3 linked regions of the Homo sapiens genome follow. The protein of the gene in region 3 purifies or fractionates together with the protein of the main gene of each other region. This does not show direct contact. Each region holds a gene or a part of one and is shown on either strand. Other genes may lie near its edges.

The links. The genes of interacting proteins can lie anywhere in the genome.
Region 1: the proteins of PRG2 (region 3) and PASK purify together in Homo sapiens (affinity purification with mass spectrometry; 4 studies listed by BioGRID and IntAct, with this or other methods). This does not show direct contact.
Region 2: the proteins of PRG2 (region 3) and ARMC8 purify together in Homo sapiens (affinity purification with mass spectrometry; 3 studies listed by BioGRID and IntAct, with this or other methods). This does not show direct contact.

The regions. Positions count from the first base shown.
Region 1 is NC_000002.12:241,132,457-241,139,479, forward strand, and holds part of PASK (PAS domain-containing serine/threonine-protein kinase), read right to left. Parts: intron 6,339-7,023; coding exon 6,198-6,338; intron 5,632-6,197; coding exon 5,497-5,631; intron 4,809-5,496; coding exon 4,548-4,808; intron 3,584-4,547; coding exon 3,415-3,583; intron 1,382-3,414; exon of another isoform or gene 974-1,381; coding exon of another isoform or gene 826-973; intron 575-825; coding exon 418-574; intron 1-417. UniProt on the Homo sapiens protein: Serine/threonine-protein kinase involved in energy homeostasis and protein translation. Phosphorylates EEF1A1, GYS1, PDX1 and RPS6.
Region 2 is NC_000003.12:138,239,294-138,246,316, reverse strand, and holds part of ARMC8 (armadillo repeat-containing protein 8), read right to left. Parts: intron 6,850-7,023; coding exon 6,789-6,849; intron 4,535-6,788; coding exon 4,334-4,534; intron 1,230-4,333; coding exon 1,134-1,229; coding exon of another isoform or gene 1,068-1,133; exon of another isoform or gene 1-1,067. UniProt on the Homo sapiens protein: Component of the CTLH E3 ubiquitin-protein ligase complex that selectively accepts ubiquitin from UBE2H and mediates ubiquitination and subsequent proteasomal degradation of the transcription factor HBP1.
Region 3 is NC_000011.10:57,387,649-57,395,422, forward strand, and holds the start of PRG2 (bone marrow proteoglycan isoform 1 preproprotein), read right to left. Parts: upstream 3,003-7,774; 5' UTR 2,948-3,002; exon of another isoform or gene 2,835-2,947; intron 2,309-2,834; 5' UTR 2,297-2,308; coding exon 2,239-2,296; intron 1,670-2,238; coding exon 1,362-1,669; intron 1,061-1,361; coding exon 929-1,060; intron 218-928; coding exon 106-217; intron 1-105.

The sequences.
Region 1 (7,023 bases), on a different chromosome or scaffold from region 3:
CAATGCAATGAGCAATGAGCTGAGATCGCACCACTGCACTCCAGCCTGGGTGACACAGCGAGACTCTGTCTAAAAAAAAAAAAAAAAAAAAAAAAAAAGAAAATGATAAAATTATGATTCCATCAGTTCTCTGAAATCTACCTCAACATTCTGGAACTCTCCACAGCCTGTTTCCTTATCCCTACAGTGAGACAGTAACACCATGGTGCCCTCCCATACAGGCTGATAAGGACTCAGCCAGGCAGCACAGAAAACCCAGCAGTCAGTGTGTGTGGAAGAGAGCAGGTGCTCAACACATGTGAGTTTTCAATGTTACTATGAATAATAGGCTGAACATTTCTCTCTGACTTGTTCCTCATTCACCTACCATCTGTCTGGACTTTTAGTAAACCTGCAACCTCCCACCAAGGGACTTACCCTGGAGCAGGCTGAGGTGAGAGGCAGGAAAGGAGCTGGCCTCCAGCAATCAGCTCAGTCTGAGTCCCGGTGAAGATGTCTTGGCTTTCCATCAGCTTCCGGATCTCATCTCGGGGCACAACGTGGCCACCAGCAAGCACGACATTAATCCTTGGATCTGGCAGCAACACCAAAAAAGAGCGTTTGCTCTTCACAGGCACTCCCTAAAACGAATCTGCTCATTCGCCTGGAACTCACTGAGACTGCTTCACAGCATGACCAGCATCGACCACCTCTCACCACCCCAGGCGTCCCAGGTCCAACCCAGCGCCCTCTTCTCTGCCTCCTGTCTCCCTGCTCCTTGGCCCAGGACACCTGCAGCCAGCTACCATGATCCTATTAACACCCAAGTCAGAGCACGGCACTCACCTGCTGACAACCCTCCAACAGCTCCCATCTGACTCTGGATAGAAGCCGAAGTCTCGGCCATGGCCCCCCAACTCTGTGGCCTCACTCCTCCAGGTCTCTCCACCTGGCCTCCCTGCCATATCTGAAGTATTAGAGGCCTTGGGATCATGGCTCCTGATCCCAGAAATGCTGTACCTGGGTATCTACAAGGCTTCCCTAGGCCTCCTGGGACCCCAAGCCTAAGACTGCATGCCCTCTTCCCCTCTTTGCCTTCCTCCCGAGCTCTGGCCACTTCCTGGGCTCCATGTCACCTGGCTCCCTCCAGTCCCCGTGAGCGCAGGGGCATCTGCACGCAGTGCAGCCTGGCACGTGGTAGGGGATGAATGTATGTCTCTTGGTTACATGAGAGAAAGCAGCCTGCATTAGGAAGGACCCTGGGAGGCCACGCACAGTGGCTCACACCTGTAATCCCAGCACTTTGGGAGACCGAGGCGGGCAGATCACCTGAGGCTGGGAGTTCGAGACCAGCCTGACCAACATGGAGAAACCCCGTCTCCACTAAAAACACAAAATTAGCCAGGCATGGTGCTACATCCCTGTAATCCCAGCTACTCGGAAGGCTGGGACAGGAGAATCACCTGAACCCAGGAGGCAGAGGTTGCAGTGAGACGAGATGGTGCCACTGCACTCCAGCCTCAGCAACAAGAGCGAAACTCTGTCTCAAAAAAAAAAAAAAAAAAGGACGACCCCAGAAAGAACCCTAGCCCCAAGCCGAGAGAAGCCTGCTCTGTGACCAGGACAGTTGGGTGGTTCGGCATAACTTCTCCAAGAGGCATTTTTGACAGTAACTAGCAAACGTGTTCATTCCCTGAATCCAGAAGTTCCACTTCTAAGAATTCATCCTAAGGAAACAATGCGAGAGTAACAGAAATGTGATCCCCTCCCCCCACCACCAAATATCCGACAAACAGCATGTACTCAACACAGGCATGCATGCACAGGTCAGAATTTGGAATTCTGGAAAAAGGGGAAGGGGAATATAATTAGTGCTAGAGGAAAAAGCTTGTATAAAGGACAGACTGAGATAGAAAAACCCAGATACAATGAAGGGAACCACATGCTAAGGAAAGCCGGGATTGTAAGGAGAACCAACAGCCTAACAAAGTATCTTTTAAAACAAATGTTACAATCCAGCTTCTAATGCCCCAGGCGAGACCCTGTGGGGAAGGAGGCTGGGCGCATGTGCCAAAGAACTCACACAATGCCCAGACAGCTAAAGAGTGTCTGACGGTAAATGTTTATCTCACCAGGCTGGTCAGTCTCGTGAAGCTGTAGTTTTTCTCAGTGACTGTATTAAATCCACTTTCGCACTCATTCGATACCCGAGTGACCGCATGCAGGACAACCTCGCAAGCCAGCACCTGCCGACCCGCCTGGCCCCACCACGATGCAGAGCCCCGAGGTGGCTGTGCTTTCTGCCAGCACTGGCCACTCTCTCTCTCTCACCCCCACTGTGTCCTTCCATAGAACAGAGACCCCCCCACCTGACACCCCTGCCACACCATCACCTGGACCCTTGGGCCCCAGCCTGCCCCAGGAACTCCAGAACCACACCCAGTGAGCCCACGCTCCAGGTGGGCAGAGGCCCTGGAGGCAGAGTTCCGGGGTCCCCACCAGGGCAGAGCCAGGGACAGGGCGCACCCCCACCCCATGCTTGTCAACAAGAATGAGCACTGTGGAAGCAGCCAGGGGCCTGCTCCTTACCAGGAGCTCAGGCGTGGGCCCTGCCAGGACATCAGCGGGTTCTACTGCCCCTCATTGCTCCCAGCCAGAGTGGGTCCCTCGGGACAGGAGGCAGTGTGCTCACCCTGTCTTCACAAGCCACACACCTAAGACTGTGCATATGAAAGGGACTCGGAGTATTTGTTGAAATCATTTAAAATGTTAAATTAAAACTATGTGGGATAAACATAATTAAACCAGGAAATACTGGTAGAACATTCAATTTAGGAATTGCAGTCAACCCTCAGTACACTCAGGGGATGGGTTCCAGGACCCCCAGAATGCCAAAATCCGAGCACCCTCAAGTCCCACAGCCCACCCGTGGAACGCAGGTGCATGGAAAGTCAGCCCTCCATATACGCCAACTTCACCTCCCACCAGTACTGGATTTCTGAGGTTGAAAAGAATCTGTGTATAAGTGGACCCTCTAATGTCAAACCCAGTTGTTCAAGGGTCAGCGGTAATCCGATATGCTACATGGCTTCACTTAAACTACATGAAGCTATATAAGTTTACTTAGAAAAGACAAGACGGTCAGTTAGCTGTGTCTCGGATGCTGTGTCTCGGATATCATGGGCACTGGTGATGCACTCTTGGGGGGTTTTCTATTCTCTTCTCTATGCTCATATGTTTATAAGAATATGTCACAGCCCCCGAGACAGAGAGGAACATCAAACCAGAAAACAGTCACCCCCTACTCCGCCCCCCACCACCCCTGAGCCTCTGGAGGGACAATAGCTCCTGCTCCTCCCAGCCCTGTCTCAGAGGCATGGGGCTGTCTGGGGCTCAGCAGCTACAGGCGCATTCAGGAGGAAGAGGACGTCTTACCCTGGCCCCCCTCAGCTGGGTCCTGGCCCTGCCACGGGTCCAAGGTTCTCTCCCCACACCCACTCTCATTGCCGACGTCCAGGCAGCTGGCCAGGTCTGGGAGCTGTAATGAGCTGTTGTACGCAAGGTCCATGTAGCTGTAGAAACCAGGAATCAGGAAAGTGATATTCTAGAAAACAAAGCAGGGACATTTCAGAACCTGGAGGATCCACGCTGACCCACTGGACCGTCCCCCTGGGGGAGGAATGAACACAAGGAGAGCCAGTCCCTGAGGGTTCACCCTTAAGGTCAGGAAAGGCCTCGGGCCAAATGCCCTTCGACGCACCTGAAGCCCCTCAGATGCTCAACATGTGATCTGTGATTTTCCCCTTAAGAAAAAGGTAAAAACATACTCTGCGGCAAGTTACAGTGACATCGACACATCTTTGGAGCAGACATCTGGCCTTTGGCCCCATGTTTAGATGGATCTGGGAGCCTGTGTTTGCAAGCCTCACCTCACGCGGCTCACTGGTGGCCGGAACAGTGACATGCACCCAGGACAGAAGGACTGTGGGGCCTTCCTCCCAGGCCAGGAGCTGCTCTGACAGATGCTTCCTCTGAACCTGTGTGTGGCCCCCTCACCGGGACACTGCCCATAGCTGTAATGCCAGAACCCGCTCTAACCTCACAGAGGGCACAAGTGTCCATGCCCCCAAAATCCCTGCAAGGTCTCAATGCCCTCAGCTCCTGTGGGAACCCCTCATCCAGGAAGAACACTAACTGCTTTTTAACTAACTTAAATTTAACGTAACTACAATTCAGCTTAGCTACTTTTTAGTATTTCTACTAGGGTGAGAAATGAACCCCCGCAGTTGTGTCGTAAACCCTGGTCCATCAGTCAGACCAGATCTCTCAGGGCTTCGAAGCACAGTGCTCCTCTCCCTCCGACGGTGGTTGCTGGGGAAGGGTGGAGAGGAAGGAGCTTGGCAGCCATGAGCAGGGACCTCCCTCCCTGGACCCAAGGTCCTTCCTGGGTAAAGGAGCGAGCTGGAGAGCTTGCCGGGTGCGAGGCCTGTGCCACACGCAAGCCCGCACTGCAGAGCACAGCAGCTTCCTCCCAGGGAACGGGAGCCAGGCGCCCAGGGCAGCCCCACCTTGCCCAGGAGCTCCGTCTTTCCGTAACCAAACAGTGTCAGCGCGAAGCTGTGGTTGATGCCGTGGATGGTCCCATCCGGCAGGAGGGTGATGAGGCCACTGATGGTGCAGAACACCCAGACAGATGCCCGGTAGCCGCTCACAGGGGCCGCCTCACCGGTGGTCGCCTCCTCGCTGCTGGGTTGGGATTTCAGCTTTAAGCTCAGAGGGAAGGTGGTACCGTCCCTGGCTCTTCCAACAGACCTCTGAATCTTGAGATTCTGAAAGAAAGGCTTGTCGTTTGGCTTAAGCCGTGTTTCACGTGGACAGAGCACTGAGTCTGTGCTGCGTCCGACCCGACTTCTACCCCACGTCATCGGGGAAGGTCCCCAGGACATCTCACACCCACACTGCTCTGCCTTCCCTCTCCTCCCAGGCCCAGCTGGCCCAGGAAAGAGCCCTTCTGTGGGTGGGGAGGACTCAGTGTCCAGAGCCGCCCCAGGCACAGCAACCCCAGGGCAAGTGAGACACCCCAGTGAGGGGCCGGGCACCAGCAGGGAGGGAGGGAGGGAGGACTGTGGGGCTCAGGCTCGGGGCTCAGCCACGCCACTGGCAACTGTGCCATCCTTGATCTGGCACCAGGATACTGGCCCCACAGGCAGCACTACACCAGCTGCGCAGCTGTGGATGTTACCTCCCACCCCTCAGCCTTGGGCAGCGTCCCAGCATCCACCTCTGTGGGTGGCCCAGCTCCTGGGAGAAGACTCAGGGGACAAGAGTGGTCAGCTGGGAGACCACATAGGCTCCGGCCCTTGGTCAAGGCCTCAGCGCACAGGAAGCTCAAAACTGAGCATGTCCCACCCCTAAGGCCACCCTTGCCTTCAGAAACCCTTGGTCTGCGTCTCCAGTTATGGATTCAGAGCTAAGAACTCCACCCCATCACACAGTGCGGGAGGTCAGGAGCCCTACCTTTGGGATGTGCTGGCCAGAAGGAGGGAGCTGCACAGAAGGGATCAGGTCTGTGATATGCTGCCCAGCCACGTCCTCCCCAGACACGTACCCGTGAAGATGAGCAAAGAGACTGTCACATGACGTGACGGTGCCCTGGAGGAAAAGCCCCGTGCTTATCATAAAAGCTTCTTGTGCTCCAGCTGTAAATTTAACTAAGCTTCAATATGTTCAAGCCAAAAGCAAGACCCCAACATGACTTCTCCATCGGAAGGGCAAGAGACATATACACATGAATTTGATAAGAGCTTCATCATCTGTCTCCTTCTACCAGAGACGTACCTAAATTGTGGGCCTTCTTGTTCTTCAGGAGCCTGGCCCACACCACAGCTCATTAATAACATCCCAGTTCACATATGAGGGCTGTCTCTAATGCCAGCTACTATCCTGGGGGGTTTACATATATTATCTCATTTAAATGTTGAAACAATCTTATGAGGAGTTATGATTATGCCCCAGTTCACAGGTGAGGAACTGAAGTATAGGAAGTTCGTTCCCTGCCCAAGCACACGCAATCAGCGAGGGTACCACTGGGCAGACCCTCCAGGCTCCTCATCCTCTCTTTCTTCCCAAAGGAATGAGACAGGGACCAGCACTTGCTGAAGAGGAGAACGACGCCGGCTCCAGCGTCCATGAGACATGAGGCAAAGTTGCACACTCACATCGCTCTGGAAAGCGACCCAGGTCGAGACCCTCTCCACGGGCTCCAGGACCACCACGCAGCATAGGCGGCGCTCCTGCCGCATCCTCTTCATCCACACAGACACTGGAATCTTCTCCCCACTACGGCTGATGATGTCCACCTGTGGAAACAGACAGGTTCACACCTGCATGCCATGAACCCAAAAGACCAGTATGGGTGGGGCACCTGCCTCCAGGAGGCCCAAACTCCAGGCACTGCAACGTTTTCAACTTCTGCTTACCTGATTTTCATTTCAGAAATTTACCAAAGCACAAACAAGATTTCCCATACTGAACATTAAAATCTCCAAGTGCAAGTTTTATCAAGAGAGTAGATTTCATTCTCAGTTCATGGTAATATTGCAGGGTGAAAAAAGCAGTATCTGTTATTTCTTAAAGAAACAGACACCAACACATGGTGAATATCTTAGTTTTTTTCTTCTTAGTAGTCAGTTTCTTGAACCAGTGATTTTCTGATACAATTGGTCCTAAGCCTGTGACATCAGTTCAGTTCAAGCAATGGGGTCTTCTGTGTGAAAGCCACACACTAGGTGGGAAACAGGCAACCTGGAGGATCTGGATGACTACTAGAGCCTCAGATCATACCCCAACCTCCACTGCCCTCCAACGCTACTCCCCCAGTCCCCGACCGGCTGACGAGGGGAAACCCTACAATCAGCCATGCCTTGGGCTTTTTCCATGCCTTGGGCTCAGTCCTCCACATCCAACTCAGCTCACCTGTCAACATCCAGGTTGGACACATGGCACAGGTGAGAGAATCAACACTGTCTAGGGAAATGCTTCCAG
Region 2 (7,023 bases), on a different chromosome or scaffold from region 3:
CTTCAAGTCAAAGTATCTTGTTAACTGAAATAAAGTGAGGTACATGGAAACATTCAATTTATTAGTTGTGCTTTTTGCATTGATTTTAAATCAAAGCTACTCACACATCAAATCTTATTGCTATTACTTCAGTTTCTTCAAGAAATGGTTCCTTTTCAAGTTATTTCAACAAATGTAAGGTTGTTCCATACTCCTCTTTCTACAGGCCTGAAGAACTTCTCTGAATCATGGTAAACTCTAATACTTTGTGATTTCTCTCACAGTGCTCCTTAAAATACTAATGCAGATGGAGAGATTTAGTAAATCATCATGTTCAGTAAATAATGACTAATTTGCTCTTTCTGCTATGGCTCCTCAAGACAGAACATGTGGTTTTGCTCTCTGATGGTCTTGAAAGCCTTGTGTAGAATTTATTAGGTTATACATGTTTTTGAGTGGTAAGTTCCAGCTTTTTGGTTTGTGGAAGGAGCCAAGTCAGAGCTTACTTACCACTATACTCCTCATCTAGAAGTATTCTCATCAAGAACATGAGTTCAGTGTTAGACTAGGCTTTAGTAACATAAGGGTGCTATACCAGTGCATACATTTTCTGGGGAGCTGGAAAATTCAGATGACCACTCACTAAACATAAAATCATCATTCCACAAAGATTTTATTCACATTAAACTTGCACAGTAGCAAAAAAAATCAAAACATAAAACTAAGCCACATATCAAAGAACAATATACAATAGAGATTTGAATTTCTCAATAGCATTGGAAGGTATTTCCATAAATAACATTTACAATTCTAATGTTAGGACTTTCAAGGTGTCTGAAGCTTCACAGTGCTAGAATTGATTTTTATCAGAACACATGCAAAAATGTGCAACATAATAATTCATATTAATGACACAAAAAAAAAGCACGCCAGTTATTTGTCATTCCAGCACGGCCATGCCACTCTATGTTCTAAAAACAAACAAACAACCCCCCAAATCCGGGTCCCATTCATTCTTCAATTATGCCTTTAGTCACTCTGCTTTATTATATTCAAACAGTCACTGTTAGTGCTCTTCACCACGACTTTCAGGTTGACGTCACTCCCTGCCTGCTGGCTGTCAGGACTGGGGGACGCCCCTCTCCCAGACTCACCTTCTTCCGGATGTCTTCATCATTTGCTCCAAGAGAGGCATAGAGCTTGAATGCAGCCTGGCGGAGTTCGTGAGCATGTTTTAAATCATGATCAAGCTATGGGGAAAAAAAGGATATGTTCCAACTCAGTCCATAAATTCAACTTTCAATAACATTAACTGAGTTGAAGAAAAAAAAAGTTTACAACTTTTAGATTTTAGTGAATTTCCCAGTCATTAACTACATTTCCCAGTTATTTTTGGATTCTGTTCACATAGCACTGAGACTTTGCAGTGTTCGTATCAATGTGACCTAAAATGCACACAATATGCTTCCATTTAAAAGTGAACACTATATTTGACACTGATATATGAAAAACCATTGTGAATCTCTGACTCCGAAAAATTCAGTGTTCCTAAATGGTAGCTTTACTGGCACTAATGCTTGCTTGCAGCAGCTCTTTGAAATGTTCTCCTTCAAAAGAAGGCACACCTGGACTTCTCTAGCCCCAGACTACAGCTGATAACCTGAATGAAATCGCAACAATGTCTTTAGGAGGGTTCCCTTAATTTTCTGAAACATTAAGAGTAGTGCTGGCCTAATTTTGGCATTTAAAAAGCTTTTAGAGGCCGGGCGCGGTGGCTCACGCCTGTAATCCCAGCACTTTGGGAGGCCGAGGCAGATGGATCATGAGGTCAGGAGATCTAGACCATCCTGGCTAACACGATAAAACCCTGTCTCTACTAAAAATACAAAAAAATGAGCTGGGCGTGGTGGCAGGCGCCTGTAGTCCCAGCTACTTGGGAGGCTGAGGCGGGAGAATGGTGTGAACCCAGGAGGCAGAGGTTGTAGTGAGCCGAGATCGCGCCACTGCACTCTAGCCTGGGCAACAGAGCGAGACTACATCTCAAAAATAAATAAATAAATAAAAATAAATAAAATAAAAAGCTTTTAGAAACAGAGAACCCATTGTGAAAATGCTTAACAAACCGTATACTATGGTAACCATTATTATCTATTACAGTTATCTGAGATTTATGTTGGGTATGGGTTTTTTCAAGAACATTATCAAAATTATCAGCATGAAGCAATTAATGGTATCTTTAAACATGCATAACTAATTATCAACTCTTCTATAAACTTGATCACCAAACTACTGTAAAGATAAAACAGAAGCATATTTTCAGGATACTTTCAATGACTGACTATGACCAAGTAACTATACAAAGTCTACCAATAATATAAATAACCTCGTAACTAAAAGCCTTAATGTAATCATCCAAATGAATACCACTTTTCCCAAAGAAGTTACTTTGGAAAGGTTCACTCATCCAATGATGTAGGTGTTGTTCATAACATTCTGAGACCCTCTTTTGAAACTTCCTAAAGAGCTAACTGGTATTATTAGCTAGAAAACACTGACAGTGGTATAGCTTGATCAATGATGAGACTTTTAGTTGTCACTGACTGTGTGTGAAGATGGAGAAATTCAGTTGGGTAATATAACGTAGGTAACAAAAAATTCCACAGAAAGCAAAAGACAATATATATATTTTACATATATATATAATTTGGGGTGGCTCTGAAGGCAATTCTTAATAGTTCCAAAACTTCTGTTCAAAGCAGACACTGATGGATTATAGGAAGAACTTCCCAATACAGAATACTCACTTTGATAAGTTCTAAAAGTATCTACTCTTAAAGTCTTAACTACATTCTAGTCATAAATTAAGATATAATACTGACTTGAACTAACATATCATGAAAATCACAAATTTATTAACATGTGAAGATTTCTCTTTACGGGTCTAGTGTCTATACTTTTCGGGTCAGAAACCTTTGGATAATCCATCATCAAAAATAAAGATGACAAAACAAACTATTACTCAAGTTTGGTATTACGATGTCATTTTTAAGGATTATTGTTGTTACAGTTTTACTCTGATGGAAATGAAATGGAAAAACTAACAGAAGGGATAATCTACGTACTAGTTAAATGATTTGCATATGCATAGGCTACATGTTCTTAAAATTGTTTCCTTACTCTCATGGCCATCAAAACATTTTATTTGCCTTCCTGGGGTGGTCAACTCAGGGCGTTCATGAGGCAGTAGCTAAGGGTTGCTCATGTATCTTTGTATTGGTAAGATACAGTGTCAGTGTGAAAAAATGACCAGAAGGAAAACAGACAAGGCAACTGGTTAAATGTATGTAACCCATCACTTCTACTGGAAAAACACCACTACTGAAAGAAGAGCAGACACATAAGTTTAATACCCAGAGAGTAGAGTACATTACTAATACAAATACCAGTGAAGGTTATTTTAGGCCCTTCTTAAGACAGAGTAAAGATATACCCTTAATAGTTTGCTTTATTTTCAAAGTTAAAAGCCAAATGAACAACTGCCTACCAAATGAGGTTTTTTGAAACTCAAAAGCATGAGGGAGAGGTCAAAAGGAGAATAGTTACCATTGGAACCACTGGCATGAAAAATACAGTTACATTCATGAAACAGTACTGGCTACTAATTAAGAGGCAATGTTCTCTCTACCATGACCTCCTTGAATAAACTTTCTCTTACAGAATGTTCATCTCCTATGCTTAAAGAAATGGATAGGGCAAACAGGCTGAGATGCAACAAGTCAAAATAAATACCGATCTATTCTAAGGAACTTAGGTTTTCAGAAAAAGCACAATTTGGCCTTTTTGGTCCCAAATTCAAGATTAAATGATGCTTTAGCTGTCACTAGCAGGCCCAAAGCACAGTATGAAACTGGGAAAAAGAGAAGATAGGGAAAGGTAACAAAATAGACTGTGGTGGAAAGTAACATGGGACAACTTAGTCTCCTGTAACAAAAAGATTACTCCTGACCTAAAGAATGAGAATGTAACAACAGAGATGATTCCATGACCAAGAATAAGATTATACGGTTATGTCAATACCCAGCTTGGAGAATCCACTACTTTTGAGGTTTAGTTGGGGAGTTAGGATGCAATTTTCTTTATTGCTTATCTGCTCAGTAAAAACTTTCTGACAATAAACATTAAACAACTTGGATTCAAAAATTCACAAAGCAATATTATCTATGTTACCAAAGATAAAAGAACCTTTATTTAAAAGGGCTTTAAGCTGTAGTTATCAATTGGTTCAAAACTGTGAACAGTAAGAAAAACTTTAGAAAAATCTCCCTTGAGCTGCTAAAAAAGGAAAATAACATACCCTTTTAATATCAGTGATGGCACTCACTGAGCTGGGATACTTGAAATAATCAGCAAGCATGGCAATGAGGTGATCAGTTATGCTAGCGATTCTCTGTAGCTCAACATCTGGTTCAATCAGATAGGCAAGTGTCTCAGCTCCTTCAACTCTCTCCTCTAGTAATCTCTCCTTACTGCACATTCGAACCAAACAAGGTAATGTCTGAAAGGTAGTGAGATTAATTATTTGCTTTTTGGTAAAGGTAAAAGCTTAAGCATATAGTGACTGAATCAACTCAATAGCTTTTATCAGGAGTAATGTTTATGATCATATATTTCCTTTACTGACTTCTAGAGAATAAAAGATTTTTTTAAAATGCAAAAACAAGCAAAATTCAGTACACATTAATAATTTGTACTGGCACATTAAACTCTATTCGTACGTCAAAGTATATTAATACAAATTCTAATTAGGCTTTTGGGACCGATAAGACAAGTTTTATTGTACAACTTTGTAAAAGACATTTAAGAATCCCTAACAAATCATGTCTGATGGTTCTGCCCTATCTATCTATTTATTTACCTAAAAAAGACCCAGCAGTTTAATCAGGAATGATTTTGCCTTAGGAAAAGTATGCTATCTCTTCCTTAGTGAGTAATATCGTTTATTTTTTGGTTTGGGGAGTCATACCTACAGTTGCCAAAACAAAATACAGCTTTAAAACTGCAGTGATCTTACCATTACTCAGATTCCACCAGTTCTACTATAATGCAACTGAAATGTATCACAGTTGCTAGGTTTTCCCAGTAACTTGCTGGAATTAGCAGTGGTATCCATGAGTCCAATTTTACTTCTGAGGTCCCTCAAAAATCTTGGCAATGGTTTGGTAACTTATCTACATTAGGTTCTCAATAAAAATATTACAGACATTTACTATTTCTTTTTCTTTTTTTTTGAGACGGAGTCTCGCTCTGTCGCCCAGGCTGGAGTGCAATGGCACGATCTCGGCTCACTGCAACCTCTGCCTCCTGGATTCAAGCAATTCTCCTGCCTCAGCCTTCTGAGTAGCTGGAATTACAGGCACCCACCACCACTCCTGGCTAATTTTTTATTTTTAGTAGAGATGGGGATTCACCAGGTTGGCCAGGCTGGTCTCGAACGACATTTACTATTTCTAAGCCTGACGGATCCACTTGAAAGGACAATGTGGAAGTATAAATTGAAATGTTATCATTATAGAAAGTCTTCCTCAAATACTGCAGGCAACTGTGCTTTGCTCTTTTATATATAATAAGTTCCTATTATATCTTTTACCACAGAGCTTAGCACTTCATCGTTCACTACTAATTTCCTATTAGGCTAGTAGAAGCTTTATAATTCAACCCTAGGTTTCCAAGGGGAAGGCCCTATTCTTTTTTCCCTAACATTACTAGTTACTAATATTTATTGATACCATAAATTCATGAATTATGTAATCTAATGCTCATGACTACTATGTGAAGAATATACTACTAACATTTTACCAATGCAGAAAAAGAGGAAGGTTAGAGAAGTAAATAAATCAAGATAAATGCTATGGAAGTCCGTGGCACTCTATGAAGAGTTGTTTACTTAGGGAGTGTTCAGATCTCATTAAATTAATTCTCTTCCCCAAAGACTAAAGCAAATATTAGTCTTCTTTGTGCTCTTTTATCCTTGGGATCACCTTTTGAACAATGATAATGTGAGATCTCATATTTATAAAATGACACATCATCAATTTACTTATACTTAATTTTTTATAGCTAATAAGACATTTTAATGTATTTAATATATTGTTATCCTCACAATAACCCTGTGCATAGATGAGCAGGAATTATTGCTTCAATTTTCATAATCTGGAGTCCGAGGCATCAAAAGAATAAAGGATGTACAGTCAGAGGTGGGAGTGCTAAAACCAGAATCCAGGTTTTAGGACTTTTAGGGCTGGTCTTTTCTCCAGGTTTTTCTAAATTCAAGTTGTATATGACATATCACAATGACAATGCTTGTTTTCATGTGTTATCTACTTATTCTCTTTCATTATGCCTTTTGATTATCAGCTATGAGAATGATATAAAGTCTTTTTCTGCAAAAGTGGCAAATCGTCTGCCTCTAAAACTGTAGTACAAATTTAATGACAATCAAGAACGAAATATATTTTCTGTTTCACCTGAATTGTACACTTTTACAATTTCCACATCCTCCTAATTACCATAAAATGAAAGGCTGTGACAATGAAATAATTATTTCACGCTGACTTTCGAAACACATCTAAAATCAATTTTTAAAAACTATATGACATCCACTGAAAAGAAAGCATGGTCTTTCAATATTATTCTACGCCATGCACATATATCATAATGATAAATGTGTAAAATGAAATATGAGTATCAATACTGATATTTAACACATAACTGGATAATTTTCACATTTTAAAGATAATTAATTAGCTTACCTTTAATACAATACAGTTATCATCTGTCCGAATTGCTCCAGCTCTACACATGTAAGTTAAACTGGAATAAGACAGCAGAAAATAAGTTTTTGCTTGGAGTTTAAAGCTTTAAATGAAAAATTATTTGCCTTTAAGATTTTATTAAAAAATCGAAAACCAAATAATATCACTTATCTTGAGAGTGAAGATTTTGACAATTCGCTTTTCGGAGGTTCAGTCAATTTAATAGTCAAAG
Region 3 (7,774 bases):
CAGGAAGCCTCTCCCACAAAGGGTCAGGCTCTTTGTAGCATCTCCTCCTTGGGGCACTTCCCATCTCCCAGACCTTTCCATCGTTCATCCCCAGCCCCACCTCACCTCGGGTACACAGGGCCACGCAGTGACCACCGCGGGACCAGGGCTGGTGAGCAGCCCAGTATGCAAAGTTCCAGCGGCTGCCGTCAACCCACTGAAAGCGTCTGCAGCGACCCTGGAGAAAGCAAGAGGGGAAGAAGGGATGGGGCAGAGGGAAGGCAGAGAAGCAGACCTGGCCCCGTATCTGCCAGCTCTTTCTGCTGCCCACCGGGCAATGGGCCCTTCCCTGCTGGACCATGATGGGAACTGTCCTAGTCATCTGAAATGCTGATCCACGGCAATTATCACCATCAGATTCTATGCATCCCAGTGACAGGCTTGTCCTTCCAGCCCTAACAAAAGGTAGAACAAGGGTTGCCAACTCATCCTAGAGATGAGGAAACAAACTCATGGTCTTGTTTTAATTTTTTTTTTATTTTATTTATTTATTTATTTATTTTTGAGGCGGAGTTTCGCTCTTGTTGCCCAGGCTGGAGTGCAATGGCTCCATCTCGGCTCACCGCAACCTCTGTCTCCCAGGTTCCAGTGACTCTCCTGCCTCAGCCTCCCAAGTAGCTAGGATTACAGACATGCACCACCATGCCCAGCTAACTTAAGTTACATAGATAGTGAGAGATGGAAAGGAACTTGGACCCAAACCTCCTGATTCTAAATCCTTAGCTCTTCCCTGAATGCCCAGGCAGCCCCCTCAGTGTTGTCTGTGGGTGTCCATCTATCCCTGGTTCTTCTGGAGATTATACAGGAGAAAAACAGACAAATCTGATGCAAGCTGAGTGCTGGCTGAGATCAGCAGGTGCACCCCATTTAGTGTTCACACTTCTCTTACCGAGCCTGTGATCCTGCCTCCAATCCAGACTTGACCCTGGTTGAGCGCGCTGACAGAACACTGGATTCGATAATTAATATTGAAGTTGTGGATGGAAACCAGGTTGCCCCTGTAGCACCTCCGGCAAGTAAACTACAGGGCAGGATAAAAGACAAAGAATGGAGCATCCTTCCTACATGAATTCACATGGGTCTTGAGTCCCCACAATTCATTCCCTCCCTCCCCTGCCACAACCATTTGAAGGTTGGAGACCAAAATGCAACTTCTGTTTGTAGGTGGCCCTCCCCTCTTACCCCAACACCTCTCTGAGGCTCAGGTTCTACTGACACCCCCAGGGCCCTCAATGGGAAAAAGAGCCAGTGATAGCAATGCTGGGGGCATATCCCACACCCGTTCCATGCTCCCACCTCAGCCTCAGCCATAGGCCACTCACCCAAGCTTGACTAAACGTCTGAAGACTTCTCACCAGGAGGTAGCGGCAGGTCTGGCACCCAGGGATGCCCACCACTTTTACTGTGTCCTCTTCCTCAGGACACGTAAGGTTTTTGTCCACCATATCTGGCACTGAGATAGACTCAACAGCCCCATCTTTCTTGGAGGCATCTTCACTTCCAGAGCCCCACTCCTCCTCTTCCTCCAGCTCCCTGCAAGGGGTCTCCTCCATCTCCTGCTCTGGTGTCTCCTCATCCTCAGGCAGCGTCTTAGCACCCAAAGGGGTCTCAAAGGTGGAAGTCTCAGACCCTGGCAGGGAGGATAGCTAAGTGTCCTTCCTTCACATCTCCCCTTGTTCCTCCCCAGAACCACAGACAGCTCACACCTTGCCCTGGGCATCAGAGTGCTCAACTCTGCCTGGGAAGGGGAACCTGGAACCCAGTCTCTATGAGGGGAACCCAAGCTGCCTGACAAGGTCAAGGTGGTTAAGAGCATGGACTTAGAGTCGGGCAGTCATGGGCTTGGGTACTGGTTCCATCATCCACCAGCTGTATTTCTGTGAAATGGGTATACAATACCACCTACTTCATGGCGATGCTAAGAGAGTTAAAGGAGAGAAGGCACTCAGTAAGCTCAAAGTAAGCATAATGGAGAAAGGACAAAATTGGGAATGTCACAGTAGAACCAAGACCACAGACATAACAGACGCCTTGAGAAATCCTTTCAACTCCTGGCCATAGAGTCCCCATCCCTTTAAGCACACAGAAATTCAGAAATAGAAGACGATCAAAGAAGGGGGTGGGTGTGTAACTCTGACCCCATCTACCATAGAAAGGGAAAAAACAGAGAAAGAAAGACTGAAGGCAAAAAACACTTACTTAGATGAAGAGCAGAAACTGCCCCAAATAGAAGAGCCAGAAGTAAGGGGAGTTTCATCTTGGCTTTATCCTGCAACGGAGAACACAGTTTGTCATTGACACACACAGACACACATGCACACACATCACAATCACACCATTAGGGGACCGTGGGAGTGAGGTGGAGAAAAAGAAGGCCTGAATAGAAATCAGGATGGGCCAGAAAAGCTCATGCCAAGCCCAGCTCCTGATGCTCCAGGATCCAGGACGCAAGGACCTCTTTCTAAACAGAACGCAGCAAACCCTGAGGGGTGGCTGAGGCTGGCTTTCCTTCAGGCCCGGAAGTAAAGAAGGGACTATTACGCTTATTTGTTTGTACTTAATGGGTCCCTCAGAGTCTATGACATAAAAAAGGCGGGAGAAGCAATGATTATTGGCTTTCCTAGGAACACATAGGACTTAGAAGGTATGTCCCCTCCTCAGAGTTCAAGAAGCCACCCACACCCTCCTCCATGTCTCCACCATCTCCTTTCCCCAGCCAAGGAGCACTTTCACATCCCGCAGAAGGAATGTGCAAGGCAGAGGATGAAGGCTGCCCCTGCTGACATCCTCATAACCTGAAAGCCACAGGTAGACGCCTGCCAGCCCTCCAGAAACTGTCAGCCACAGCCAGGGACCTCCTGGGAGAATAAACTGTCACCAGCTCCACCACAGCAGAGAAAGCACTCACCCACCCAGAGACCTTCCTGGGTCTTTAGATCTTCCCAAAGCCCAGGTCCTTCTTTGCTTCCTCTCACAAAGACTTCTTATATAGAGGCCTTGGAGGAACTTCCCCCAGGGAGAGAGAGTTTGCCTCTGTCAGAGGGAGATAGCAAGGCTGATAAGGACCATTTCATCACTTCCCTGGGGAGCCCACTCATTCATTCAGTGAAGATTTCTCTCCCGATACCCACTTCAGGAACCCAGGGGCCATCTGGAACAGCTCTGGGCAATGGTTCTTATCCTGGGCTACACTTCAGAATCGCCTTGGGTGCTTTTCCAAAATACATATCTCCCCTGTTTTACTGGTGTTTTGAACTGCCACAAACATTTTGAGAACAAATCTGTCCATACCTATTAAAATAAAAAAATGCACATTTGATCAGTTTCACTCTTTTGAGACTATCCTTTAGGCATAAATGCGCCTATAAGTAATAAAACTTTTACAGAGTTATGTTATTCCTTGACTATTTGTAGAAATGAAAACAATATTGATATCCATCAATCGGACACTGAGTAAAATGTGTCCTCTCTATTCTACAGAATGTTATATGGCTATGAAAAGAAGAGCTGGACCTGTATCTATAAACCTGAAGAGATGTTTCTGTGACATGAAGTGAAAAAAGGCAAGATACTGAGGAAAGTATTTAGTATGTGAATAGTTTTACAAGGAAAAAAAAAACCCCCGCATAGGTGCTTATCTGTGAGCATCCTTATGTGACCATTGATGGAGGGAATGCTAAAAGGAATCACACCAAATAGTTGACCTTGTTGCCTCCAGAAGCAGGGGAGGAGAGGGAAGAAAGCAGGAGACAGATTGTTGTTTATCTTCTTTTTATAACTTTGCATTTCTTCAGTGGTTATGGTAAATGCGTGCTGAATCTGTAATTTTGAGGCTGCCTTATTAAAGATTTTTAAAAATATGCAGATGCCCTGCCCAGAAACTTCTGCTTGGCTAATAGGTCTAGCGTGAAGGTCAGATGTCTGCATTTTTTTAAAAGCTTCCCAGCTGACTGTGATGGAAGATGGGTCTAGGAGTCACTGTCCTGAGGATCTTCAAGTACAGGAAATGTTCACGTATGTCTAACTTCTTTCCTTCTGAATCAGACCACTCAGTTGGCCAACCTACCAGCCTTCATTATGGTAACATTTACTGAACATTTTTAAATGCCATGCATGGCAAGTGGCTGGATGCAGTGGCTCATGCCTGTGATCCCAGCACTTTGGGAGGCTGAGGTGGGTGGATCTTTTGAGGTCAGGAGGTTGAGACCAGCCTGGTCAACATTGCAAAGCCTTGTCTCTACTAAAAATACAAAAATTAGTCAGGCATAGGGGTGGCTGCCTGTAATCCCAGCTACTTGGGAGTCTGAGGCAGGAGAATCACTTGAACCCAGGAAGTAGAGGTTGCAGTGAGCTGAGATTGCACCACTGCACTCCAGCTTGGGCGAGAGAGTGAGACTCCGTTTCAATCAATCATCAATCAACAAAATACTGTTCATGGCAAGTATTACCTCATTTAACCTGATTTTAAAAACCTAGTGAGGTAGGTGGTTGATACCCCATTTTCCAAGTGAGACAACCCAGGCTCTGTGTGGCTCCTGATCTCCCCGCAACACTGCCCTTATTGGATCGATGCCCTGTATACACCCTCTTGTAGCTCCAGGGGCTTGTCCTTATCAGTTAGTCATTTTACTTTTCTTGTGAGATTACTTGGTTAATGGATTAACATCTGTCTTCCTTCGTGATGGTGAAGGCTGCATCTCTTTACTCACCATTGTATCCTTGGTGCTTAGTACAGTGCCCGGCACATAGTAGGTACTTAATAAATATACATTGAAGTAATTAATGGTTAAGTAACGTACTCACGTAAACAACAGGGTTAGAATTCAAATCCAGTTCTTTCTGGCACCAAACTTCTCTCCCCTCCCATATGCCTGCTTGTGTGTCAAAAATGATGCTATCCAGGTGGAGATAAAATCAGAGTGAAGCATAGATCCTGTATTCAATTAGCTTACAACCTAATTTGTAAGATGAGTAAATTGAGGTCAAACAAAAGGAGAAGGGTTAAGACCAAGCTAGGAAACATCCTCTGCTAATTCAGAAGGAAGTCCATGCATAGTAAAACAGAGCAGAAAAGGCTCCATGAACCAAGGAGCTGATTCCTACCTGGATGGAAAGATGCAATTAGAAGGGAAGGAAACAGGCATTTCAAGTAGAAGGAACAGCTTGAGCAAAGGTGTGGAGGTTGGACAGCCTTGGTATATGCACAGGACACTGTAATTTCCTTCATAACTAAAGTTAACAGTACACACATTGGGAAGGAATGAGAAAAACGAGGAACGATGCATTTCATCTTGAGCCGAGGATGGAGATAACCCTCCCCTGTCTCCATTGATTTAAAAAGACAGAAGCAGGAATCAAAGGAATACTCAACAAGAGCCTAGTCAGGAGCTTTGAGCTGGGCTCTGCGCACTCCCATCTGCAAGCCCTCCCCACAGGACCTCTTTGGCTGTTGGACAGAGGATTACTGTCATAAGGTGATGAGAGGGAGCCCATTCTTGGAAACCAGTTGACTGTTCAGGGACCCTCACTCCTAGGGAAGTCTCTCTTTTAGGTCATACAATCCAGGATCTGAAATCCACAGCTTAGCAACCCTGAAAATTTCATCAACATTCACTGGAAGTATACAGCAGTGTCTGAGAGGGTGGCTTCTGGAGTCAGACAGTCCAAGTCAGACTCAAATTGACTGGGTCTAGCACTTAATAGCTGCGTGTCGTGTCCTGGGCAAGTTCCTTAAACTTTCTGTACCTCATATCATCATTTATGAAGTAGGGATGACAATACCTACCTCACTGGGTAGTGTGAGAAATGAATGAGATAATTCACATGTAGCATGCATGCTGTGAGCTGCCCAGTCACCTCACCCCTTCCTGTGGTTTCTTGGATTCCATTTCCTATGGATCTTGGTGGAGGACAGGCCTCTCATTTTTGAAGACAAAAGTTCCTAATAGATTTTCAGCTTCCTTTGCAGCTAACGCATATGACTGGGCTCTATCAAAGAGAAGAAGCATCTATTCAAGATTTTGAATCTGGAGCTAGTGACCAAAAAGATGGAGGCCAAGAAGGCCTCTCTCTGGCGGTGGCGTTGACAAGATTGAGTTCCTGGAGTTGCAGTACCCACAGAGGCACTGCAGGATACATTGATCCAGGGTCTGAGCCCTACAACATCCTGGGTGCCAGACACAAGGTCTAGGTCTCAGCAGCAGTGGGATCCTCCCTAGACCTGTTCTGCAGCCTGACTTTGGCTCCATGTCTGGTTTTCCGGCCCTTCCTGCAATTTCATGAGCTACTCCGTTTCCTTTCAGTCCTGGATTTTTCTACTTAGATCAGCCAAGGAGAGTTTCTGCTGCCTGCCATTAAGAGCCCTGACTGATGCAGCATTTAGCACAGAAACTGGTATTTAGTAATTGCTTAGTAAATGAATGCTACCCAGGGTCTTTGAGTGTGACCAGCATTAATCAAACTTTCAAGAGACTGATGTCTACTTTTGGTGCCAATGACATAAATGAGGTTGAACGGTACTCACAAGGGGCCCACTTGCCCAGGCTCTCTGATAAGCACATTCTTTCCCTGCATCACAACTGTGGTGTGCTCAGGACTTGAATTTCAAATGGGAGCGAAGAGCTGGAGGCCTTGGGGTCCAGTGCCTTTGAGCAAGAGAACGATACCCATCATCTCCGTTTAATCCTCAGCCCTGCCTCCTTCCCCAAGAAATGTTGACTCATCACTGCAGGATCCTGAATCTTAGGCATCCTCCTTTCTAGCCCTAAAGTTACTACAGAGCTTGGAGGTTCCTAAACAGACTCAGTCAATCCTCTCCATACCAGCACTTCCAAAGGGGACCTGACAGATCACCTCTGCATTTAATCTTTTCTGATCTAATTCTCGGGGGGCTCATCCCAACTTTAGGCTTGTGGGGGAGTGTGCTGTAGCTCCTGGTACAAGCTGTCCAGGGTCAGACCTGGTACTGAGGGGTCTGCTCTTCTACAAGAGTGGGCTGTTGCAACAGGAGAAAAACATGTGTGCACCAGGCAGAGCAGAGATCACCTTGGAGATGGTGTCAATACCAAGGAGCTCTTGGGATGCCCCTCCCATGCCCAACCCCCAACACATGACAGCTTAAAGACTAAAAAAACCACCACAGCTCCAGATATGCAGCTCACACTATTCAGCCCTCACCTCCACCTGCATCCCTCCCCACACCCTGCAGCAGAGCTTTTCAACCTGGAAACTATGAATAGGCTTCAAGGGACCATGAACCCTGCAATTATAGAAAACATGGTGTGATGTTTCTAGGGTGAAGGTCCAAACCCTCCATGAGATTCTTTGATGACTTCCCAAAAGGCAAGAGAACCTCTAACTTTACTGAGTGATTTTTTTCTGGAAGAACCAAGAATGACATTCCACTGTTCTTCACCAATAAAGTCCTGCTTGGCCCTTTTGACAGGCAGAATTCAGTTGTCCCCTGGTGCACTGTGCATAATCCCTGGGACTGTAAATATGATGGATTTTACTCCTGTGGTTGTGTGATGTTACATGCCACAGTTGACTTTAAGGAAAAGGAACTGCCCTCTATGGGTATGATCTAATCAGGTGATCCCATAAAAGAGACAGGGCTCTCTTCCTGAAGTCAGAGAGTCCAACCATGTGGGTGATTCAATCCAAGGGAAATTCTCCATCACTGGCTTCAAGGATGGAAAAGACCACGCACGTGGCAAGCAATGTGGGCAGCCTCGAG